Regions from separate parts of the Homo sapiens genome. Here region 1 is linked to region 2. Evidence: fine-mapped expression QTL. A gene starts in region 2. The other region holds a variant in brackets. All regions are shown on one strand. Distances are from middle to middle. Region 1 has its middle 14 kb from the start of ZNF252P-AS1. Region 2 holds the start of C8orf33 (chromosome 8 open reading frame 33).

Evidence for each region. PIP is the estimated chance that this variant, and not a neighbour inherited with it, causes the effect. A credible set is the group of variants that fine-mapping cannot tell apart.
Region 1: its variant is the best candidate, but not a certain one, in a credible set for the expression of C8orf33 in whole blood (TOPMed, PIP 0.69).

What each region holds. Positions count from the first base shown.
Region 1 is chr8:144,986,681-144,990,932 of GRCh38, reverse strand. It overlaps the pseudogene ZNF252P. Among named protein-coding and RNA genes, the nearest start is that of ZNF252P-AS1, 14 kb to the left of the region's middle. The variant G/A (reference allele first, on the strand shown) is at 1,855.
Region 2 is chr8:145,049,941-145,054,192 of GRCh38, reverse strand. It overlaps C8orf33 (chromosome 8 open reading frame 33), which reads right to left and starts at 1,726. Exons shown (of 5, transcript NM_023080.3): 1 at 1,696-1,726; 2 at 1,296-1,607; 3 at 1,047-1,131; 4 at 750-896; 5 at 1-175. The coding sequence starts at 1,701. The coding sequence ends at 36. RefSeq lists enhancers at 352-1,152, 2,081-2,130, 2,171-2,300 and a silencer at 1,801-1,870.

The DNA of each region.
Region 1 (4,252 bases), 63 kb after region 2:
GGTCCTGGGTTTCAAGCACAAAACTGGGCGGCTGTTTAGGCAGGCATCGAGCTAGGTGCAGGAGTTTTTTTCATACCCTGGTGGCACCTGGAATCCCAGTGAGACAGAACTATTCACTCCCCTGGAAAGGGGGCTGAAGCCAGGGAGCCAAGTGGTCTCAATCAGCGAGTCCCACTCCCATGGATCCCAGCAAGCTAAGAACCACTGGCTTGAAATTCTCACTGCCAGCACAGTAGTCTGGAGTCAACCTGGGATGTTCGAGCTTGGAGGGGGAAGGAGCATCTTCTGACATTACTGAGGCTTTAGTAGGCGGTTTTCCCCTGACGGTGCTAAGGAGACCAGGAGGTTTGGACTGGGCGGAACACCACAGTGCGGCAAAGCAGCTATGGCCAAACTGCTTCTCTCGATTTCTCCTCACTGGGCAGGGCATCTCTAAAGGAAATGCAGCAGCCCCAGTCAGGAGCTTACAGATAAAACTCTCACCTCCCTGGGACAGAGCCCCTGGAGGGAGGGGCAGCTGTGGGCGCAGCTTCAGCAGACTTAATCTTTCCTGCCTGGCTGTGAAGAGAGGAGCTGATCCTGACAAAGGGGATTCTCCTAGCACAGCACACCAGTTCTGCTGAGGGACAGACTGCCTCCCCAGGTGGGTCCCTGAACCCCATGCCTCCTGACTGGGAGACACCTCTTAACGGCTCAAGAGACACCTCACACAGGAGAGCTCCAGATGGCATCAGGTCAGTGCCACTCTGGGATAAAGCTTCTAGAGGAAGGAGCAGGTGGCAATCTTTGCTGTTCTGCAGCCTCCACTGGTGATAACCAAGTCAACAGGGTCTGGAGTGGACCTCCATCAAACGGCAGCAGACTGGCAGAAGAGGCGTCTGACTGTTAGAAGAAAAACTAACAAACACAAAGCAACAATAACAACATCAACATAAAAGACCCCACACACACACACAAACTCCATCCAAAGGTCATCAGCCTCAAAGATCAAAGGTAAATAAATCCACGAAGATGAGGAAAAAACAGTGCAAAAACACTGAAAATTCCAAAAACCGGAATGTCTCTTCTCTTCCAAATGATCACAACTCTTCTCCAGCAAGGGCACCAAACTGGATGGAGAATGAGACTGATGAATTGACAGAAGTAGGCTTCAGAAGGTGGGTAATAACAAACTCCTCTGAGCTAAAAAAAAAACCATGTTGTAACCCAATGCAAGGAAGCTAAGAAACTTGGTAAAAGGTTACAGGAACTGCTAACTAGAATAACCAGTTTAGAGAGGAACATAAATGACCTGATGGAGCTGAAAAGCACAGCACAAGAACTTCCTGAAGCATATACAAGTATCAATAGCCGAACTGATCAAGTGGAAGAAGGATAGTAGAGATTGAAGATCACCTTGCTGAAATAAGGCATGAAAACAAGATTACAGAGAAAAGAATTAAAAGGAACAAACAAAGCCTCCAAGAAATATGGGTCTATGTGAAAAGACCAAACCTACGATTGATTGGTGTATCTGAAAGCAATGGGGAAAATGGAACCAAGTTGGAAAACACACTTCAGGATATTATCCAGGAGAGCTTCCCCAACCTAGCAAGATATGCCAACATTCAAATTCAGGAAATACACAGAACACCACTAAGATACTCCACAAGAAGATCAAACCCAAGATACATAATCATCAGACTCTCCAATATTGAAATGAAGGAAAAAATGCTAAGGGCAGCCAGAGAGAAAGATCAGGTCACCTACAAAGGTAAACCCATTAGACTAACAGGTGATCTCTCTGCAGAAACCCTATAAGCCAGACGAGAATGGGGGCCAATATTCAACATTCTTAAAAGAACTGGGCTGGGC[G/A]CAGTGGCTCACACCTGTAATCCCAGCACTTTGGGAGGCTGAGGTGAGCGGATTACCTGAGGTCAGGAGTTCGAGACCAGCCTGACCAGCATGGAGAAACCCTGTCTCTACTTAAAAATACAAAAATACAAAAATTAGCCACATGGTGGCACATGCCTGGGAGGCACAGGTTGCAGTGAGCTGAGATTGCACCATTGCACTCCAGGCTGGGCAATAAGAGCAAAATTCCATCTCAAAAAAAAAAAAAAAAAAAAAAGAAGAATTTTCAACCCAAAATTTCATATCCAGCCAAACTAAGTTTCACAAGCAAAAGAGAAATAAAACCCTTTCCAGACAAGCAAATGATGAGGGATTTTGTCACCAGCAGGCCTGCCTTACAAGAGCTCCTGAAGGAAGCACTAAATATGGAAAGGAAAAACTGGTACCAGCCGCTGCAAAAACACACCAAAATATAGAGACCAATGACACTGTGAAGAAACTGCATCAACTAATGTGCAAAATAACCAGCTAGCATCATGATGCCGGGATCAAATTCACACATAAAAATATTAATCTTAAACATAAATGGGCTAAATGCCCCAATTAAAAGATGCAGACTGGCCAATTGGATAAAGAGTCAAGACCCATCCATGTGCTGTATTCAGGAGATCCATCTCACATGCAAAGACACACATAGGCTCAAAATAAAGGAATGGAGGAATATTTACCAAGCAAATGGAAAGCAAAAACAAAAACAAAAACAAAAAAAGCAGGGGTTGCAGTACTATTCTGATAAAACAGACTTTAAGCCAATGAAGATCAAAAAAGACAAAGAAGGGCATTACATAATAGTAAAAGGATCAATGCAACAAGAGGAGCTAACTATCCTAAATATATATGCACCCAATACAAGAGCACCCAGATTCATAAAGCAAGTTCTTAGAGACCTACAAAGAGATTTAGACTTCCACACAATAATAGTGTGAGACTTTAACACCCCACAGTCAATATTAGATTAACAAGACAGAAAATTAGCATCCTTTATTTATTTATTTTTTTAATTTATTATTATTTTTTTGAGACAGAGTCTCACTCTGTCAACCTGGCTGGAGTGCAGTGGTGCAATCTCGGCTCACTGCAAGCTCTGCCTTCTGGGTTCATGCCATTCTCCTGCCTCAGCCTCCTGAGAAGCTGGGACTACAGGTGCATGCCACCATGCCCAGCTAATTTATTTGTATTTTTAGTAGAGAAGGGGTTTCACCGTGTTAGCCAGGATGGTGTTGATCTCCTGACCTCATGATCTGCCCACCTTGGCCTCCCAAAGTGCTAGGATTACAGGTGTGATCCACCACACCCAGCCAGCATCCTTTAAAATTAAAGATATTCAGGACTTGAATTCTTCTCATTCTTGTCAGTGCCACATGGCACTTATTCTAAAATCAACCACATAATTGGAAGTAAGACACTCCTCTGCAAATGCAAAAGAACAGAATTCATAACGGTCTCTCAGACCACAGTGCAATCAAATTAGAACTCAGGATTAAGAAACTCACTCAAAACCACACAACTACATGGAAATTGAACAGCCTACTCCTGAATGACTCTTGGGTAAATAATGAAATTAAGAATGAAATAAGTTCGTTGAAGCCAATGAGAATGAAGAGACAATGTACCAGACTTTCTGGGACACAGCTAAATCTGTGTTAAGAGGGAAATTTATAGCACTAAATGCCCACATCAGAAAGCTGGAAAGATCTGAAATCGGCACCCTAACATCACAATTAACTAGAGAAGCAAGGGCAAACAAATTCAAAAGCTAGCAGAAGACAAGAAATAACTAAGATCAGAGAAAAACCGAAGGAGATACAGAAAGGAAAAACCCTTCAAAAATCAATGAATCCAGGAGGTGGTTTTTTGAAAAAATTAACAAAATAGATAGACCGCTAGCTAGACTAATCAAGAAAAGAGAGAAGCATCAAATAGACACAATAAATAATGATAAAGGGGATATTACCACTGATCCCCCAGAAATACAAACTATGATTGGAGAATACTATAAACACCTCTACTCAAATTAGAAAATCTAGAAGAAATGGATAAATTTAGTTTAGTCTTCTAGAAGACTAAACCAGGAAGATGTCAAACCCCTGAATAGACCAATAACAAGTTCTGAAATTGAGGCAGTAATTCATAGCCTACCAACCAAAAAAAAGCCCAGGGCCAGATGGATTTACAGCCAAATTCTACCAGAGGTATAAAAAGGAGTTGGTACCATTCCTTCTGAAACTATTCCAAACAATAGAAAAAGAGGGACTCCTCCCTAACTCATTTTATGAGGCCAGCATCATCCTGATACAAAACCTGACAGAGACACATCAAAAAAAAAAGAAAATTTCAGGTCAATATCCCTGATGAACAT
Region 2 (4,252 bases):
CAAGGGAGGGGGATTGTTTCAGGTTCGGGGAGACGCTAAAAGAAATTGAACCTAAACTCTTCATCAGGCATGTCCAGAGTGGCTTTGGCTCTCCATATAGAGCGAGGCCTGCAGACCCTTTGGCTCTTCTTTCTGGTGGCTCCATCTACAGGTTGCACCTGGGCTGAATAAGCAGCTGTCGGGGAGAGAAGCAGCGTATGTCAGAACTGAATAATAACAATTAACATTACCTGTACAGTTATGTTTGCCCATACAATTCTAACCACCTTGCATAAATTAACTGATTAATTCCTCAAATTTGTAAGGTTGATATTACTATCATCCCCCACTTAGAGAGGTTCAGTAGTTTGCAAAAGGTGTTAGTACTACTATGTGGTAGATCCAGGATTTGAACCTAGCTGATCTGGCCCCAGGAATTGCACTCAAACTGTTATGGGATATGGCTTCATTGCTAGTAGAGAAAGCCAAGACACAAAGACATGAGGCAGCTTTCCCCAACCCAGGAGCAGGACCAACATAGGACCATGCTCTTTCCCACTCCTCCCAGGGCCTCCCCGCTGCTTCCCAGGTTCAGTCCTAGGAAGAGGAAAGAGAGGTCCACGCTTTCTGTTTCCCTGCTCCCTCAGGCTTCCCTGAGCCCATCTCCTTCCCCCACCAGGCTTGTTGCTCTGGGCCTTCTTCCTTTCACCCCCTAGACACTTCCTCCTTAAGTTAGGCCTTCCTGAATCAACCAGTGGCTAGCTCCTCACCAGCTCTGAGAGCCCGCAGGGCCTCACGCCATTCGGCTTCCATCTGAGCCCTATAGTCTCCAAACAAGGAGTGCATCAGCTGCCTCTTCCGGGGCAAGGGCGTTCTTTTGCTGCGCAGGGTTCGGATTGCTCCAATAGCCTGCTCTTCTGCGAATAAAAATAAAGGACTAGTGAACACCTCTATTACTGACCTCCTACCACCCCGCCGCAAAGCCAACAACTCCATACTCTGCCAGCACCTGCAGGCCAGGCAGTGCCACTGTTCACATCCCCCAGCTCTACAGAAGGGTCCCTTACTCTGTTTCGGGGTGGGTTTCTGCCTCTTGAGGCCCAGCTCCAGTTGCTCCACACACCAAGCCAATTCCTGGGCCAACTGTTGTGCCTGTGATGGATTTGGGGAAGTGGCTGTGAGAGGGCACTGGAAAACCATAGCCGCCGGCCCCATCCCATGCCCCTCCCCGCCTTAACTCCGCGGACCCCAGATCACACGTGCCCGTGGATTCGCACCCGTGGATTCCACCCTTCCCGACCGAAGCCCGCCCTTGCCTGGGCCTCAGCGCTTAGGGGAACTTCTTCTGGGGCGAGTTTCTCTGAGGCCTTCTCGCCTCCATTTGCCACAGAGGCCCTGTTCCGCGTTTTCTTCTTATTCTTTTGTTTTTTCGACGCTGTGCCGCCTTCATCGCCCAACGGGTGCGCTCTGGAGTCAGCGTTACTGCACGTAGGTTGCTCTGGGCAGAGACAGACAGTGGAAGGATTCCGGGCGCTGGAAACTGGGCCGGGAAGCCGGGCTCCGCGGGACGCGCAGGGAGTACCCGGGCCTGGGGCCGCCGCTGCCTCCCCAGCAAGATGTCCCAGGGCCTGGAGAAAGGGGGGTAGCACGAGGGTCACCGAGAGCCGCCAACAATGCAAGGCCCAGCCACCCGCGCGTCTTCTCCACACCGCTCACCGCCATGCGCCGCAGTCGCCACCGGAACTACGCGGGGCGCAGAGTCCGACGCCGAATTCCGTCCTTCAAGAACGCGCCTGCGACTCTAGGTTCCGCGGGGCGCGGGCGGGGCGCGGGCGGGGCGCGGGCGGGGCGCGGGCGGGGCGCGGGCGGGGCGCGGGCGGGGCGCGGGCGGGGCGCGGGCGGGGCGCGGGCGGGGCGCGGGCGGGGCGGGGCGCGGGCGGGGCGCGGGCGGGGCGGGGAGCGGGCGGGGCGGGGCGCGGCTGGGGTGGGATGAAGCTGGGACGGGGCGAAGCTGGGACGCGCCTGGGACGAAGCTGAGATGGGGCTGGGGCGGGGCCTGGGGGTTCGGGGAAGAGGCTGAAGAGGGGTCTCGGAAGAACCCTTGTGAGCGAGTGATCGCGGGCGCTGACTACGTGCCCGGCACCTTTCCGGATAAAAGTTCAAAGCTCTCCACGAGGGTGTGTCTTCTCAAGGCTCACCTTTTGGTGGGGAGGGAAAAGCAAGTAAACAGCACGTGAGCAGCTACGGCGCAAGAGGGTGGTCGGCAAAGACCCTGGGAAATGGGGAAGAGCGAGGGTCAGGGCGCGGTCGTTTGAGAGGCCGGCGTCTCGGGACGTGGAGGCTCGGGTGAGGTCTGAGAGTTGGGAGGGCCCCCGTCATGGGCTTACTTCCGTTCTAACGCAGTGGGAAGTCGCTGCAAGATGTAAATCTGAAGAGTGGCATAATCGTAGACGTATGTTCTGCAGATCTCTCTGCTCTTGTGTAACGAGTGGGGCACATGGGGTGGAGGGACGTGGAGGGGTTTCAGAAGCAGACGCGGGAAGAGCCTTGGACAGGATATGGACGTGAGGGAGGGTGGCGGTATGGGGGAGAGGGAGAGCCCCATCCCACCACCTCTCTTCCCCTGGATGCTTCCCTCCCACTATACCTTGCTAGAGACCTGGGGTCACACACAACACTCGACCCCCGCCGATGGAGGCATGACAACCGAGAGGAATTGCGTAGGGGTTGAGGTGAGGCTGAGTAGGGTTTCAGGGGGGCAACGGGCTATGCCAGGAGGGTGGGTTGTGTTGCTTGAGAAGGTAAGAGTCCGAGATGTCTGATGATTCCTTTCGGGGACACAGGAGTGGAAAGCGGTGTTTCCTGAGACGGTGGGGTGGGAAGTGTTAGCTGCCTGGTCTGCAAGGTCTCGAAGGGTTACAGTTTGGTCATCACTGATAGTTATTTACTGCAGTGTGATACATTACTCCCAAAATTCGGCGGATTGGCCGGGCGCGGTGACTCACGCCTGTAATCCCAACACTTTGGGAGGCCGATGCGGGCGGATCACGAGGTTAGGAGTTTGAGACCATCCTGGCTAACATAGTGAAACCCCGTCTCTACTAAAAAATACCAAAAAATTAGCCGGGCATAGTGGCGGGCACTTGTAGTCCCAGCTACTCGGGAGGCTGAGGCAGGAGAATGGCATGAACCCGGGAGGTGGAGCTTGCAGTGAGCCAAGATCGCACCGCTGCACTACAGCCTGGGTGACAGAGCGAGACTCCATCTAAAAAAAAAAAAAAAAAAAAAACACGCAGAATTTAAACGGGACACGCAGTAAAGGAGATGCGGCATACAGTAATTTATTACAAAGGAGAAAGAATATTTGGAAAGTTAAGTGAACAATAGACAGTACACCCTGAGAGAGAGAGAGAGGATTGAGGGCCAGCTGCTCATAAGGTTGGGGCAGCAAAGACGCATGAGGGAGACTCCCTTTATGGGGGTCTTACATGATTATTCATAAGGAATTGGGAAGAGGTGCTACTAGTGAGTATGTTCTGGATGGTCCTCTGAGTGCACATGTGCGGTAGCTGTATGTTCTTACATGCTTGTTCATACAATGCTTCTTGTCATACAATGCTTGTTCTACATGCTGGTATATGATTGTTCGTACATGTCACATGTCTTATTAGCATCTTAAACCTCCAACCAGGGCTCTGTTTTTTACTATTATAATGAGCGAAAGGTCAGTCTGAGGACAGGTAAAATCAAAATGTACATGCTCTTTGCAGGGGAAATTCTCTACTGAAGATAGTTTTGCTTGAAAGAGCTTAACCACAATGTGAAGGCAGAGGCTTATTGTGCTGATTGCACAGTCACAACAGTTGCTGCATCCCGAGGACATGGTTACTTCCTTGACTACCTATCCTGCCTCACTTTCAATGCTCTGATTTTATCCATTACCTTCCTGACTCATATGCTATTTTTGTCTTGACTTCATTTCTATCTTTGTTTTTAAATCTGCCATATTAGACTTAATTCTATTTACAGTCAGTGTTTTCAAATATACAACTTTTGTTTTTCTTAGAGTCCATGTCTCACTCTGTCACCTAGGTTGTCCTGGGCTCAACTGATCCTCCCTCCTGCCTCAGCCTCCCAAGTAGCTGGGACCACAGGCATGCACCATCATACCAGCTAATTTTGTAATTTTTTGTAGAGATGGGGTCTCACCAGGATGCCCAGGCTGGTCTTGAACTCCTGGGCTCAAGCAATCTTCCCACCTCAGCCTCCCATG